Linked DNA regions of Homo sapiens: region 2 is linked to region 1. Evidence: fine-mapped expression QTL. Tissue or cell type: subcutaneous fat. Region 1 holds a variant in brackets; the other region holds the start of a gene. All regions are shown on one strand. Distances are between the middles of the regions.

The links.
Region 2: ELAC2 starts here. The variant in region 1 is fine-mapped to the expression of ELAC2 in subcutaneous fat (GTEx, PIP 0.99).

The regions. Positions count from the first base shown.
Region 1 is chr17:12,988,250-12,996,575 of GRCh38, reverse strand. ARHGAP44 (Rho GTPase activating protein 44) reads right to left here. Exons shown (of 21, transcript NM_014859.6): 21 at 4,933-6,544. The coding sequence ends at 6,405. It overlaps ELAC2 (elaC ribonuclease Z 2), which reads left to right. Exons shown (of 24, transcript NM_018127.7): 17 at 1-29; 18 at 598-636; 19 at 764-873; 20 at 1,514-1,613; 21 at 1,692-1,812; 22 at 2,073-2,151; 23 at 2,745-2,889; 24 at 3,531-4,964. The coding sequence ends at 3,758. Among named protein-coding and RNA genes, the nearest start is that of ELAC2, 26 kb to the left of the region's middle. The variant G/A (reference allele first, on the strand shown) is at 3,340.
Region 2 is chr17:13,014,119-13,022,444 of GRCh38, reverse strand. ELAC2 (elaC ribonuclease Z 2) reads left to right here and starts at 4,418. Exons shown (of 24, transcript NM_018127.7): 1 at 4,418-4,742; 2 at 5,324-5,374; 3 at 5,513-5,583; 4 at 6,613-6,677; 5 at 7,949-8,006. The coding sequence starts at 4,498. RefSeq lists a silencer at 4,301-4,380 and enhancers at 4,901-4,960, 4,981-5,090, 4,602-5,102.

The DNA.
Region 1 (8,326 bases):
TGTCCCACCTGCACGCAGATCACCACACGGTGAGTGTTGGGCTGGACCACAAAGCTGGAGCCTGGAGGAGGCACTGCCACGTTGAGTTGGCCCTTTGGCTGCGTCTTTTCCTCCGCTTCCAAACTTGCCCAGAGCTTTTGTTACTCATCTCTGGCTAGGAAATGGTTTTTTGCAAAACTCAACATAGTCCTTCTGCGCCACAAGAATGTCTTCTCTTCCTGTTCAGTTCCTTTCCTGCAGCAGGACAGGTTTGAGTTTACCCAGCCTTCCTTGAGTCTTGAATCTCACACGGCCTGCTCAGCGGAAGCTTTGACCGGATGCAGGAGGTGTGGCTATGAGACCCTCACCTTGGTCTCCTGGGGTGCCGGGCCCTGGGCCGTTGCCCTCTTCCCAGCACGGGTCGTGTCGCTTTCTGCCTGTGACATTTCAGGGCCATGGCGCAGGGGGCTCGGCCTGTGCCACCCCCACTGCGGCTGTGTTAGAGGCTGGTGGGTGACGTCGGGCTGGCAACTCCTGCAAGAGAGAGGGCTGCAGACCCTAACCCGGAGGGGATGGCCCTGGGGCCTGGCTGACGCATGTCTCCTGTTTCCTTGCCAGGGCTTGCCAAGTATCTTGCTGCAGAGAGAACGCGCCTTGGTAAGTGTGGCACTTGATGGGCGTTCTGAGTTTCAGCGGTTTACACATCATCCGCCATGCCTCTTGGCACTCCAGTTTTTATTGAGATGTTCTGTCGTCGAGTCGGCACTTGCATTTTTTGTTCCAGGCATCTTTGGGAAAGCCGCTTCACCCTTTGCTGGTGGTTGCCCCCAACCAGCTCAAAGCCTGGCTCCAGCAGTACCACAACCAGTGCCAGGAGGTCCTGCACCACATCAGGTGAGCATCCAGGGCAGCCTGGCCCGCTGGGCTGTTGCTTGCTGCCGTCTCCTTCAGAAGCTCAAGGTGGACACTGGGGTAGTTACCAATATCCCCCAGCAGCCTTGCCCTTGACATGGTCCCAGATGGCAGAAGCAGGGGAGAAGTGCATTGGCTGAAGGACAGAAACCATTAGATAGTTCCCATGTAATGCTTATTTTCTTAGAAGCATTTCTTCCCAGTCCTCATTTGAGTTCTGAGCTGCTTTCTAAACTTCGAGCAGCTTTTCTTGATGAGACAGTTCCAGAGCCAAGCACCCAAATAGTGGCTAGCACAGAGAATGTCCATAGCAGGTGTGTGGCTAGCTGGCAGGTGGCACCATCCTCACCCCAAGGGGAAGGAGTCCCCTCTGCTGGAGCCATCCGTGGCCCGTGCTGCCTGAGCCGGAGGCAGCATTCACCTGCTGGGTTTCTCCCAGTGGCCTAGAGGCTTTGGTTTGGCTCTTTATATTTGACTGCTGTTTCCTCATCATAGTGACTATGATTTAACTCATGTTTTCTCCTAAGAATGATTTTGGGGTTCTCCAGCCAAAGACTTAAACTTTGGTTCCAGATGTCCAAGAAACGTTTATTATCATTTTAAATGTTTTGTCTTTTTACAGTATGATTCCTGCCAAATGCCTTCAGGAAGGGGCTGAGATCTCCAGTCCTGCAGTGGAAAGATTGATCAGTTCGCTGTTGCGAACATGTGATTTGGAAGAGGTAAGGGGCACAGCCGCAGGCATCATGGGGGCGAGGTGGGGAGCAGAGCTGCAGAGCCCTCCAGCCCCACCCTTTCAGTTTCAGACCTGTCTGGTGCGGCACTGCAAGCATGCGTTTGGCTGTGCGCTGGTGCACACCTCTGGCTGGAAAGTGGTCTATTCCGGGGACACCATGCCCTGCGAGGCTCTGGTCCGGATGGGTGAGTAGAGGAAGAAGCAAGCCACCCTGAGGTTGCTCTGGGGTTTGTGTAGCTGGAGGTGAATGCAGGTGGGCTTGCAGGGAAACGTCAGCAGAGGCAGGAGACTCAGGTCCCCACCCTCAGAGTCTCTGGTTGTCATCCTAGTAGGCAGACCCAGGGCCAGGGGAGCTGAGTGTTGAGACCAGGAAACAGCACGTGACTGAGGCCTGTGTGCCGCTCTCGCAGAGAACTCTGCCCTGATCCTTGTGCTGCTTCTCCAGGGAAAGATGCCACCCTCCTGATACATGAAGCCACCCTGGAAGATGGTTTGGAAGAGGAAGCAGTGGAAAAGACACACAGGTAGCAAAGGCCGGTCAGTCCTTGTCGCCCACATCCTCTCCCTCCCCCACTACGTGACACTGAGCAGCCGTCGTTTGTCTCCACTGATGTGGGGCTGCCCTGCTTCCTATCAAGGGCTATGGGGGCTTCCTTGACCTGTGGCAGTGCTCACAGGCTCTTGGCCTTTATTTTTGCAGAATTTTCTAAGCAAGATTCTAGAGTGAGGCACAGTTTTTTGAAAGCATCTAGAAATCGGCTGAATAAACTATAAGCCATGTCAGGGAATTGCCAGGGGAAGGCGGGGGCTGGGGGACTGAATTTTTGGCTGCTAATTTCAACGAAAGAGTGCATTACCCCAGGTGGGCCCTGTGGTTTCTCTTGGGTGCCCTCATGGACAGATTTGGCAGCCAGCACAGAGGGTGGGCTTCATCCAGGGGTGTGTGCGAAGGCTCTGGCCCTCAGGGGAGATTGTGCTGGCTACGGAGGTGCCCGTTAAGAAAACCCACCAGCTTCCCCGGGTGCCCTGGCAGTTGATGGCCAGGGTCTGTGCCACTGTCTGCTTTGCAGTCTTGCAGTTGAGTTCAGCTTCAGTCTGCTCTGTCCTTCACCTGCAGCACAACGTCCCAAGCCATCAGCGTGGGGATGCGGATGAACGCGGAGTTCATTATGCTGAACCACTTCAGCCAGCGCTATGCCAAGGTCCCCCTCTTCAGCCCCAACTTCAGCGAGAAAGTGGGAGTTGCCTTTGACCACATGAAGGTCTGTATGTCACACGGACAGCACAGGGCGGGGACGGGGCAGGGAGACAGGACTCTACACACTGAGTAGGACGGTCAGCTGGAGTTTGCTTTCTTATTTGGGGCCACCGTGGGAAAAGGTTATCTACCCATCACTAACCAGGTCGAACCACCCTGGGTTTGCTGGTGAGACCCACCTCCTGCAGGGGCCAACTAGTCTTCAGTCTCAGTTCACTGGAAATTTCTGAGAATCCTTTTAGGCCTGGACTGCTCACACAGTCATGGCATTTGAGCCTCAGCACAGACCTGTGAGACAGGTGGTTGCCTCTTGTGAGTGGGAAAGCCAGGCCTGACCCTTGGCCTTCCGGAATGAAGGGGCAGAGCCGGAGCCAGGCCTCGTTTTTCAGGAGCTTGATTTTGAGAGCATCTGGACTGCTCTCCCTTCCCTCTCCGGAGGCCCTTAGCCAGGCCT[G/A]GGGAGCCTCTGCCCCTTTAGAGGGTTCCCTCCATGCCATTCTTTTTTCCATTTCAGCTGTGGCCTGTTGGCTTGTGCCAAGGAAGGGGCGTTGGCGCTGCTGTGTGAGCACATGACTGCATCCCTTCCAGCTCCTGTCCCCCACCCCTGCCCCTCTGAGACATGTCCTTGTCTTCTATTGTGTCTTCTAGGTCTGCTTTGGAGACTTTCCAACAATGCCCAAGCTGATTCCCCCACTGAAAGCCCTGTTTGCTGGCGACATCGAGGAGATGGAGGAGCGCAGGGAGAAGCGGGAGCTGCGGCAGGTGCGGGCGGCCCTCCTGTCCAGGGAGCTGGCAGGCGGCCTGGAGGATGGGGAGCCTCAGCAGAAGCGGGCCCACACAGAGGAGCCACAGGCCAAGAAGGTCAGAGCCCAGTGAAGATCTGGGAGACCCTGAACTCAGAAGGCTGTGTGTCTTCTGCCCCACGCACGCACCCGTATCTGCCCTCCTTGCTGGTAGAAGCTGAAGAGCACGGTCCCCCAGGAGGCAGCTCAGGATAGGTGGTATGGAGCTGTGCCGAGGCTTGGGCTCCCACATAAGCACTAGTCTATAGATGCCTCTTAGGACTGGTGCCTGGCACAGCCGCGGGCCAGGAGGCTGCCACACGGAAGCAAGCAGATGAACTAATTTCATTTCAAGGCAGTTTTTAAAGAAGTCTTGGAAACAGACGGCGGCACCTTTCCTCTAATCCAGCAAAGTGATTCCCTGCACACCAGAGACAAGCAGAGTAACAGGATCAGTGGGTCTAAGTGTCCGAGACTTAACGAAAATAGTATTTCAGCTGCAATAAAGATTGAGTTTGCAATTGTGAGTTCTTTTGCTTCCTCCTGCTGCTGCTACAGAGCAGGGTCTGCTGTGCACCACCTTGGAGAAGGCTCTCTGTGCTGTAGTGTGGCAGCTGCCTGGTACCCGGGTGGCTTGGAAGAAGTCAGCTCCCGTCGTAGTGAGCACCTCTGGAACCTGTCCTCAGAGAGCCACCCTTATTCGCCAAGTCTTTTTGACAACTCGAGCTGTGCCAGCTCACAGCAGGGCGTGCTTTCTCTATCAATCAATCAATCAATCAATCAAATCAATCAGTGAGAGCCTGGCTGGGCTGGTGTCATTGGTCAGGGAAATGCAAGTCTTCTGGTGGTTCTGGGTAAAAGTGGAGACAATAGATTTGCTGTGTTGTTGCTTCCATACTGAGAGGAGTGAGGATCACTTTGCCCTCGAAGGTTTTGAGAAATGGCACACGGGGCTGGTTTCCATTGTCCTCCTTGCGGGATTTACAGACGTGGATTAGTGCTCGACAAATGGAGAGCATTTTCCAAGGAAGTAAGTAAGTAAAGTAAGTAAGTAAGTAAGTAAGTTGAATCTAGTATTTATTGTGTATATTCCCTACCCAGGAGAATGTAAAAAGAAGAGCTTTAAAAACTCAAAAGACAAGCAAGCGAGAGATCAGCCAGGGACCTGGCTTTACACAGGTGGTGACCTTCAGGCTCCATCCCGGTGTGCATTTGAGATTGACGGCCATGTCCCCGCAGGTTTATTAAAGCAAGAACAGATGCCAAGCTCAGGGATAATAAATCTATTTTAATAACGTTACTTTTGACAACGATTTGTACATGTATTTAAAGATAACAACTTTCAACCCCCACCCTTACCCCAGACTCCCATTACAAATTGAGGCATGACCTGCCCTTGCCAGGAAGTGAGCAAAGCTGCAACATCAAAACTCTGCACATCCCACTCTCAGAGGAGGGTGACTTTACACTGTGTTGGGAAAAATAACTAAGCATTTAAATTTTTCATTGTACACCTGTACATTGGTTTAGATTGAATGGCTCAAATTAAACAAATATAGAGAGATTTCATATATACAAATATTATATCATGTATAGGTATATTATATCATCTATTTGAAAAGGATAAAATTTTAAACTTTGACTTTGCATGCATGGCCCAAATCTTTTCTCACTCCCCTAATCCCCAAGTGTGAAAAGGCTACCCGGTGCCCTCCCGGCCCTCGTCCCCATGACCAGATGGGACTTCATGAGAAGGAAATGAGCGGCTGACGCTGGTGAGCAAAGCAGGCCACACCGCAGGCCGAGCCCGTGGGCCAGCGTCTCCGTGGCTGGTTTCACTTTTCCTCCACATGCTTTGGGTAACGTAATTATTGCTATTCAGTTTGAACCTCCAGAAAGAAGAGACAGGCTCCAGGACCCCACAGACTAGTGAACTGGGTGCCTTTAGGTACGTAGAGGGGTAAAATTACTCTCATATAGCCAATATATTTGGGGACAGGGAGGCCACCTTTGGCTCCTCCAGACACTGTCAGGCTTGTTTGTTTTGTTTTATAGATTCAGAAATATAAAATGATATAGGAGCTTTCAGTCACACAGTGGAAAAAGGAAAACTGTTAGGAAGTGAAACATTTTTGTTTTCAGCCATTTACTTTGGAGCCCACTGATGGGGGCGGCCTGAAAGGTTTTCCAGTGGCAAGCCCTCCCCCAGGTAGCTGGCAAAGGTCAGTGCCCCAGGACTGCTAGAATCCTGGACCTGGTCCAGTTGTGGGTGAGAGGGGCCCTGCTGTCCTGCTTCCTTTCTGTGGCCATTAAACTGATCCTGCAAGACCTGACATGAGCCGTCCAAGGAAAAGGTAGCAGCCCTTGGGTCTAACCAGGCAAAGTGAGCCTCTCCCGCACCACCCCGACCCTGCAAAGGACGTTCCTGACCAGCCTTGGATGGAGAGGTGGGTGTTTTCTGGCATGGAGGCTGAAAGTGGATCAAAAGAGGCACAAAGTCAAAAGGCAAAGGTCAAACAAAAGGCCGAAGTCACCACCCGAAAGGAACAAACAAAACCTGCACCACCAGCATCACCACACGGACTGGAGATCACAATTTTCTGCCAAATTCCAACCTCGTGTTGGCAGTGGCAGGAAAGAGCCAGCAGAGAACACTTGGCAAGCTCATGGACGCTGCTCCTGGCGGCGTTCCTAGGGCCCGTGATGTATGTACACGCGAGGCAGGATGGGCGGTGTCATGTCAGAGGGCGGTGCTCTCAGACTCCTCCTCCGAGTCCCTCTTGTCAGTTACTGAGTGTCGCCGCATGTGCTCCAGGGGACTCAGGCGGAGCGTCGACCCGAGCTCTATGTGGATCGAGGGAATATCAAAGTGGACAAGATCTGGAAGGCGGCAGAGAGAGAGGTGGTTGAAAGGAGGCTTCCCGGCAAATGAGAACCTAGTTGTAGGCAAATAATGTCAGCCTTAGGAGGCAGGGGTGCTGCTATTCTAGGGATAGATCATTTGGAGGTTGGTTTAAGCATTGTGTTGCACAGTCGATCAGGTTGTGCTCATGCCTGCTTTGCTTCTACCCCATAAGTTCGTAGAACCAAAGCACCCAGGATACGCCACTGTGGTTCAGAGGAAGGCCAGAACAGCACTCCCCTGCCAAGCCACAGGGTCCTTTATTCTTGATAAGAAGGATGCTGAGTAGGTCTCAATGACACCTTTTTGGGGATCTATATCAGACGACTGCATTTCATTCCCCAGAATCTGCAGGGACAGGACGTGAGACAGTGGACCCCTTTCTCCTCTCAAGCCTGTGAGAGAATGGGGAACCCTGAGCCAGTGTCCTCACTCTAAGAAACAGCTGCATTTTGGATGGCTGACATGGGTGGAGTAGAAGGTCTCCCTCAGGACCCTGGTTGTCATTGGTGCCAACTGTCCCTGACTGCAGGACAACCCCCACCTCTGGTTACATCCTTATTTATTAGGAGCATTAAAAGGTCATTTTTCCCGGCAAGATGAACAGGAGAAATGTACTTGAAATAACAGCTCAGTGTCTGGACGTCTCTGAGTCGGCAAAGACGACAGAAGTCCTTAGACTGGCAGCTGAGTGGACACGAAGCCTCTTTGCCACACCACGTTAAAAAAAATCCCCTTGCTGCTGCAGCCGCCGCCCTGGGGGACACTGACGAGGCTGTGCTTGCTGACTCCTCCAGGATGTGCTACAGCCAGAGAGCCAGAAAACCACAGATCCCCTGGGTCCTTTACTCTCGTCATGCTGTCCCCTTCCTCCGCCTGCTTAGTTTTTTTTTTTTTTTTTTTTTTTTGGGGGGGGTGGAGTTTCGCTCTTGTCACACAGACTGGAGTGCAATGGCACAATCTCGGCTCACTGCAACCTCTGCCTCCTGGGTTCAAGCGATTCTCCTGCCTCAGCCTCCCGAGTAGCTGGGATTACAGGCACCCACCACCATGCCCGGCTAATTTTTTTTTTTTTTTTTTTTTTGGTGTTTTTAGTAGAGATTGGGTTTCACCATGTTGGCCAGGCTGGTCTCGAACTCATGACCTCAGGTGATTCACCCACTTCAGCCTCCCAAAGTTTTGGGATTACAGGCGTGAGCAACCACGCCCGGCCTGCCTGCTTAGTTTCTGGCCGTCACTTAGCTTTGCAAGGCTGGGAGCAGCACTCCAGGAGGCAGAGGAAGGGAACACATGTTCAGACTGGGGAATACCATACTAAGTGTACAGACATACATTTGGACACTGTCCTGAAAGACATCATACAAACATGGAAGCTCTTGAACAAAGGTCCTCCCTTGCCCCAACCCCCAGGCAGCCCTCACGTCCTTCCAGTCTTTGTTTTGCTGCCTGATGGAGAAGCAGAGATTTGGGGCGTGGGGCTGGAGGAACAGCCAGTGCCACTTGTTCCTCTGAAGCAGGTGGCCTCAGACCCACCTCTGCCCTTCCCCAGCTACTTGGGTCATGTCTCTACACAGGTGTGAGGCTGAGTGGCCCGGGGCCCACCTCACTGTGCAGGGTTCGCTATCAGGTAAGAGCACCAAGCTCCCCTGCTTAGATTCAAAAATCCCAAATATGTCAGGCAGGAAGAGCATGACCTTGGACAAGTTTCCTACCTTCCCTGTGCCTCAGCAGTCAAATGGGAATAATACAGGGCGGTGATG
Region 2 (8,326 bases), 26 kb before region 1:
CATTGCTGTACGTGACTGCAGACTTTTTTTTTTTTTTTGAGACTGAGTCTCGCTCTGTTGCCCAGGCTGGAGTGCAATGGCACGATCTTGGCTCACTGCAACCTCCGCCTCCCGGGTTCAAGTGATTCTCCTGCCTTAGCCTCCTGAGCAGCTGGGGTTACGGGTGCCCACCACCACGCCTAGCTAATTTTTGTATTTTTAGTGGAGACGGGGTTTCGCCATGTTGGCCAGGCTGGTCTCAAACTCCTGACCTCAAGTCATCCACCCGCCTGGGCCTCCCAAAGTGCTGGGATTACAGTTGTGAGCCATCGTGCCCAGCCCAAAGTAACTTTTGTTTCAAAAACCAATTATCCCTCTGATGCATTGTGGCCATCAAGTTTGGAGTTGTTGGGTTTCTAGGGCTCTAAACCAGAAACACCTCAGACCCAATGAAGACAAAAGCATCTATTATAATGTTTTCCTGTGTGCCCTGGGGCCCCATCCCTGTGCCCAAGACACCAACTTTCTGAGCTTTCTGAGAGCAAGACCTTGTTCATCTTTCTGTACACCAAGGTCTTAGTACAGCATCTAGAACCCTAGAAGAGTGTCTAGAAACTCGTGTGTGTGTGTGTGTGAGTGTACTGAATGAATCAATGAATGAATGTCTGTGTGGAGAAAGCCAGAGGGTATTTCAGACAGGGTCCCAAAGTATGTGTCCCTTGGTCAGATCACCAGATCTTGGGGATCGCAGGAACTGCCCCAGCTTTGTAGGTACAAAAGTCTGATTTATAAATATACCCAAGAGATGGCCACATATGAGTGGACTAGCTTATGGCAACCATACTTACAAGCGTGTACAGAAGAAAGTCAAGTTATAAATTATACCTTTGTAACTACAGGCATATGAAAATGTACTGCTCCCAGCATTCATTGGCCAGATTATTCTGCCTGGCAGCCATCTCTTCATAGGACCCCCCCGTAGGATAATCAGAGGGTTCCAAGAAAGCCTGGACTTTTCCACGTCAAGGGCTCTTTTGCAATGTGACTTTGATACTTCTCCCCTCAAGAGGTAGAATATAATTTTCCTCCCTTTGAATCTAGGTGGGTGCTGTCTGTGTCTTGCGTTGACTTCTGGGCCTAATTCTTCAGAAGCATTGCAATTTCATTTCATCCTTTTGGAGGCTGACCACCATTCAGAGAAGCTCAGCCTAACTACTGAATGTGGACAGTCTACATGGATGGAGAGGCAATGGGAAATGAACCAAAGCACCCCCAGCAGGGCCAGTACCCAGGACCCACACCTGTGAGTGTGAGGTTCCACTCCCATTGAGCCACCCAGCAGCCACTGCAAGGAGCAGAGACAGGCTATTCTTACTAAACACAACCGTGACCAACAAAAGGACTGAAAGTGATTTCAAGCCACAAGCTGCCCATATACAAAATGGATAACAAAAAGAGACTCAAAGCAAGAGGAAGTGGCTGTATTATATTAATTGTTAATATCACTGACTTCTGAAAGTCTGTCGCCTCGATTTCCACTTTCTCTGCTGTCCCGATGGTCAGGCTGCCTCTACTCCAGCAAGTCCAGAGACACTTTTCTGTTTCAGACTCTCTGAACTATCCTTTTGGAGGTACCAGTCACACCAATCCCCTTCAGAAAACACATACATTGTTGTCTTGATTCAATTTTAGGCCCTGCTTAGTTGTAAACTGAAAACCTCATTTAAGCTACTGGCTTGCTTCTAATTTCCTAGTATTTATTGTCTGCCACAAGCCAGACTCTGTCCTAGGAGCTAATGATACAGCAGAGGACCAGATAGACAAATCCCAGGCTCATGAAATTTACATTCCAGTATAACCTCAGATTGAAGAAGTACTAGCTATTGTCTTCATATACCAGGAATAAAAATATGACCCAAAGCATAAGTGCAGAAAGTACACTGGGCCCTAGAAACAACCTAAATAGCATCCAGCCCTCAGAATTTTATATAAGTCGATGACCAAAAGTGATTCCTCCTATAATTTTGAGATAAGTAGTTTGAGATTACCCAACAGATAGATATGCACATAGGGCACCAATAAAATAGAGGAACCAATGTATTTTTGTTTGTGAAATTTGATATATTTTTTAAAAGGATCAAAGCAGTCATCACAGGAAAAAAATCAGTATTTTATTTATTGCACTACACTTTTTAAAAGTAGTTTTAATGAATTAATTTTCTTTTTCTTTTTTTTTTTTTTTTTTTTTTGTAGAGAGTGTCTCACTCTGTCAGCCAGGCTGGAGTAAAGTGGTATGATCATAGCTCACTGCAGCCTCAAACCCCTGGGTTCATGTGATCCTCCTGTCTCAGCCTTCAGAGTAGCTGGGACAACAGGTGTGTGCCACCATGTCCAGCTAATTTTTACTTATTTTTAAATTTTTTAGTATTTTTTGGTAGAGATGAGGTCTCGCTTTGTTGCCAGAGCTGGTTTGTTTGTTTGTTTTTGAGATGGAATCTCCCTCTGTCACCCAGGCTGGAGTGCAATGGTGTGATCTTGGCTCACTGCAACCTCTGTCTCTGGGGTTCAAGTGATTCTCCTGCCTCAACCTCCCCAGTAGCTGGGATTACAGGCCCATGCAACCACTCCCGGCTAATTTTTGTGTTTTTAGTAGAGACGGGGTTTCATCATGTTGGCCAGGCTGGTCTCGAACTCCTGACCTCAGGTGATCCACCTGCCTCGGCCTCCCAAAGTGCTGGGATTACAGGCATAAGCCACCATGCCTGGCCACAGAGCAGGTTTTGAACTACTAGCCTGAAGCTATTCTCCCGCCTTGGCCTCCCAAAGTGCTGGGATTACAGATATGTGCCACGGTGCCCAGGCTTTAAGCAACTTTTAAAAACTATCATTTTTATTTCAAATACTTATGGAGATGGTGGTATGATAATCTTTTCAGTTTGTAACGCCCTCTAACTGTGTAAAGTAGATCTGAAGTGTTTTCCTGACCCTCACTGGGATGGTTATTTCAAGTACAAAACGTTTTCACACCGTGGGTGATAATCTTCCATAAAAAATTTCATATTTGAATGAAAACAGCTCAAGAAATACACTAATGAGCAAAAATATATGGGGAAAGAGGAACGTGTAGTTTTGACTTAACTGAAGAAACCAAGAGGAAACTGGTCTCCATATGAAAATGTGATCCTGGAAAGTCAGGTGTCAAGATTTTCGAGTAGGAATCTACATGACTTGAATCTCCCTTACTTCCTGAATAAAAGTGACATCTTTCAGTATTTATTTAAAAAAATCATATGTCAGTGGAGCTTCCAGGTAAATTATCTTTAAAAAATCATATTTGAGTGGAGCTTCCAGGTAAATTATCTTCCTCTTTTAAGGGAGCTCCCTGTATTTCTAGCGGCTTTAACTGATATCCCTTTCAGTGAGAAATCCTCATTAGCTACATAAGAGGGGACTGGGTGTTTTTTTCAAAAAGCTGGTATTGGGACATCTACCTCTGTGATGTCCCTGGTCAGCTATATTGTCTAGGAGTTGAAACATTTTGTATTAATTTTCTATCATTTACTGGGTGCCTCTTCTGTGACAGTGCCACTCAAAGGTCTATTGATATATTATCAGGTGACTGAATTCTATATTCTGAAGTAGGAGATACTGTTATTGCTGTTATTACATTTTACACATAAGAAAGCTGAGGCTCTGAGAGGTCAAGATCACGCAGCTAACAAATGAGCCAAGACTCTTGCTTTAGAGCTTGTCCTCTATTCTTGCTTTTCTTTCCAAAAAACACTACAATTTTTGTTTTGTTTTGTTTTGTTTTGAGACAGGGTCTCGAGGTGTCACCCAGGCTGGAGTGCAGTGGCGCGATTTCGACTCACCGCAACCTCCGCCTCCGCGCTTAAGCGATTCTCCTGCCTCAGCCTCCCAAGTAGCTGGGACTACAAGCTCGGGACACCACGTAAAAATGATCAAGTTCTAACATGTATGCATACGAATTACAATGGAAATAAAATTAGCAAAGCGCTTATGCTAATGCTCAATACAATTGATTTCCTCACATTTAATCCTCACAACCACTACAACCACCTCTAACTCAAGCTCTGAGGGACTGACGTGCCCGGAGGACACAGCTCTTATCTGGTGAGAACAGGAGCGTTTTAGCGAAACTCCAAACTCCTAGGTCCCGCCTTCCCCAGGAAGGCTTTTCCTGGCACTGTGCTTCCGGAAGTCCCGCCCCAGGAGAAAAACAGCTTCCGGAAAAAATTGCGGCCGGCAAACCGGAACAGAACTAGGGGCGGGGCCGCTTGAGACGCTCTAGTATTCCTCTACTCTATGGCCACTGTCAATTGACAAGTCCCGAGCGGTAAAGCTCCTTTCTATTGGATGAGCAGCCTCGCGTAGGCGGGAAGCTCGGTGCACGGCGCGCTGATTGGCTGGATCCGCCATGCGGAGCGGCTAGGTGGTGCACGGGAAACGCGGGCGTAGGTGACCGGCGGCTTTCTCAGTTTTGGTGGAGACGGGCGCATGTGGGCGCTTTGCTCGCTGCTGCGGTCCGCGGCCGGACGCACCATGTCGCAGGGACGCACCATATCGCAGGCACCCGCCCGCCGCGAGCGGCCGCGCAAGGACCCGCTGCGGCACCTGCGCACGCGAGAGAAGCGCGGACCGTCGGGGTGCTCCGGCGGCCCAAACACCGTGTACCTGCAGGTGGTGGCAGCGGGTAGCCGGGACTCGGGCGCCGCGCTCTACGTCTTCTCCGAGTTCAACCGGTCAGTCAACGAGCCACGCCCCGTCCCGCTGGGCCCTCAGTGCGGCGCAGCCTCTGAGCATCGGGGCACCTCCCAGGGCTTCGGCTTCCCTGCTTCACACATGTGGTTCACTGTTGCGGGGGTTCGTGGAGTTATGGTGGGTGGGAAATCCGAGATTCTTTGCATCCATGTGATTTCTGCGGATCTGTGAAGAACTTCAGGCCTGGGTCTGAGCGTCCTTTTCCCAACCCTTGGGCCCCGGCCTGGCTGTCAGCACTTTCGGAGCTCCACCCTCTTCCGTGCACCCCAAGGCCAGTGTGTCGTTGTTAGCGTGTGGGGTGGACAGATCTGGTGTGTAGCCGGTGGTGGAGAAAGGACTCATTTTGTCCTAGCACCCACACACACAGGCCCCCACTCCTCTCCACCTCTGCTAAGGAGGGCTCAAAACCCACCAGCATAAATGTGGCTCGGTAGTCCAACGTGGACTTTTAATTTTTTTTTCTTTTTTTTTTTTCCAGAGTCTACAATAAAACATCTAATTGGTGTCAGAGAGTTTACAGAATAAAACCTTCTGAATGTCTTGTGTAATGTTTGTCTTGTAGGTATCTCTTCAACTGTGGAGAAGGCGTTCAGAGACTCATGCAGGAGCACAAGTGAGTCAGTCTCTTGCTTTCGGAGGGGGAGTTGATTACGGGGCTTGAAAGCCGAAATGAGAGGCCAGTTGTTTTTTATAGCAAAAGTGGTCCTTGTTCTGTTCATGTTATCCTGTTTAAATGTTTTTTCATTCTTAGGTTAAAGGTTGCTCGCCTGGACAACATATTCCTGACACGAATGCACTGGTCTAATGTTGGGGGCTTAAGTGGTGAGTATATTCTTTGCAGTGTCAGAGGCTGGTGGGAAGTCTCTGGGATTTTAACCGGCTTTACCATTTTTCCAAGTCTGGGGTGGGCAGCTACTTTTTTTTTTTTTTTTTTTTTTGTCAGTGGCGTGATCTTGGCTCACTGCAACCTTTGCCTTCTGGGCTCAGGTGATCCCCTCACCTCAGCCTCCCAAATAGCTGGGACCACACGTGTGCCCCATCACACCTGGCTAATTTTTTTTGTATGTTTTGTAGCGACGGGGTTTTGCTATGTTGCCCAGGCTGGTCTCAAACTTCTGCGATCCTCCTGTCTCGGCCTCCCAGAGTGCTGGGATTACAGGCATGAGCCACCGCACCTGGCCTGGAATTCTTTTTATACCAGCCCAGTCAGCAGCAGCACAGAGCATTAAAAGCTGTGACTCAGGAGAACAGATTTTAATATGGATACCACCTCTTAAGTGTTACCATCCACTTAGTTTCTTGCGTTGCGGGGACAGAGATTTGTGGCAGTAAACTGGAGAGTCTAGCAGTGGTGATTACAGTTAATATGTTTACCGCAGACGCCATTGGCACATTGGCAGCCACACACATACCCACTGTCCAGATTACCCTGTCATTTATGTCTATCAACCGGAAGGTCAGGATTGTGTTGCAGCCAAATTGTGTGGGCTTGGTGGCATGGACCGGAAGGAGTGAAGTGTTAGACCAGTCTCCCTTCTCAGGGCTGAGACTAGGGTGAGGCACTTAGGGTGCCAGCCCTTCACTTGCATGATTCCTTACATTTTGCACACTGGGTGCCTTGCTGCTTCACCCTAGTGACAGCTCAGCCCATTCTAGAGGCATTTAAAGAATATTTGGTGTCTGTTACACCTCTAGCTGGCATCACTTCTGCTCTGTACATCTTCCCTGGTTGTACTTCCAAAGCTGGAAGGTGGAGATGTAGATAAATAGTTGGATTAGTACGGGGTGCTCCTCCTGTTAGTGACGACAGGTCAAATTGATGAGAGATCTGATTTTATGCATCCTTTTTAGGAATGATTCTTACTTTAAAGGAAACCGGGCTTCCAAAGTGTGTACTTTCTGGACCTCCACAACTGGTGAGTCTTTCCTGACACATCTTTCAAAAGCAATCTTTCCTTTTGTAATATCAGTAACAAGAATTTTCCTTTTTGCAAATCAGTCTTCTGCCCTCCAGAGATACCTGGTCGTTGAAACGCTTCCCCTTTCAAGTTAAAAAGACTTGAGTTCTGATTAACTATGTGACCTTGATCAAGTTACTTTACCTTTCTGAGCTTTAGTTTATTCATCTATAAGATGACTATCACGTTTCATAGAGTTGTTAAAGATTAAATGACGTAGCAGCACATATAAAGCACTAAATCACTTTATTAGATATATGTTTGGCACCAAGTAGGCACACAAGAAAGGGCAGCTTTTGTTTTTATTCAATAAATTTCTGACATCTTCTTACCTTTCAGTCCAGCTTATTACACTCTTGAGAAGGCGTGTGTGTGTTGTTGAATATAACAGTTCATTTTCCAGTCCTTAAGAAGAAAGTCACCAAGACCTGTTAAGTCTTTCCCCAAAATAACGTTTGAAATCCATCCATTTGTCTCTTATTGAGGCCTTCCTTATTTCTGTTTTCTATGCCTGTAAACTACAATAGCCTCCCATATTCATTCTCGCCTTCCTGTAATCCATCTGCCACACAGCAGCCAGAGAGGTCACTTCAAGACAGAAAAGTAGTGTGTCACTTGCCACCCTAAAGCCCTTCATGGGCTCCCCATTGCAATACAATCAAAACACCTTGATATGGCCTACAAGTCCTGTAGGCCCCGGCCGCTACCCACACTTCCATCTGTACCCATCGCTGAACTGCAGCTGCATGGGCTGACTCTTATGTCCCTCTAACTCCCTGGCCACTTCAGGACTTTCGCCCTTCCGCGGGTTCCCTCTGCCTCTTCTAATTGCTGCCTATATTGTTACTGAACCTTCAGGGCTCAGCTAGAGGGTCATTTACTCCAGAACTGCCTCTTCTTCTCTAGACAAGTTGGATCCCAGCCTTCTGTATTTTTCATTTTCCTTGCAGAGCACTTAGCATAATGCCACTAAGCTGTTTCTGTTATCGTGTTTCCTTTTGTCTCCTCCACTGGCCTGATTAGAGCAAGGCCTCCATCTCTTTTTCCTGCTATATCCTTGGCATCTGATATAATGGATACTCAGTAAATATTTGTAATAAATGATGTTCAAAATATTTACTAAGCTTTGTTTTATGTTGATACCTATTGGTAACCTTTTAAATACTTGAATAGTTGCTGTGTTCTACATTTGTTCAACCATAACTGCTCATTTCTTTGTTTTTCATTAGGAAAAATACCTCGAAGCAATCAAAATATTTTCTGGTCCATTGAAAGGAATAGAACTGGGTACGTCTTTGTCTGTGACTCATCCTCTGCTATTTCTAACTTATATATGCCCTGACCTCTCAAATTAGAATCCATTAAAAACATCAACATCAAACCTCAAAATCAAATGCTTCATCACCACGAGATTTTTTTTTTTTTTTTTTTTTTTGGATAGAGTCTTGCTTTCTTACCAGGCTGGAGTGCAGTGGCATGATCTCGGCTCACTGCAACCTCCACCTCCTGGGTTCAAGCCATTCTCCCACCTCAGCCTCCTGAGTAGCTAGGACTACAGGCGCATGCCATCACGCTCAGCTAATTTTTTGTATTTTTAGTAGAGACGG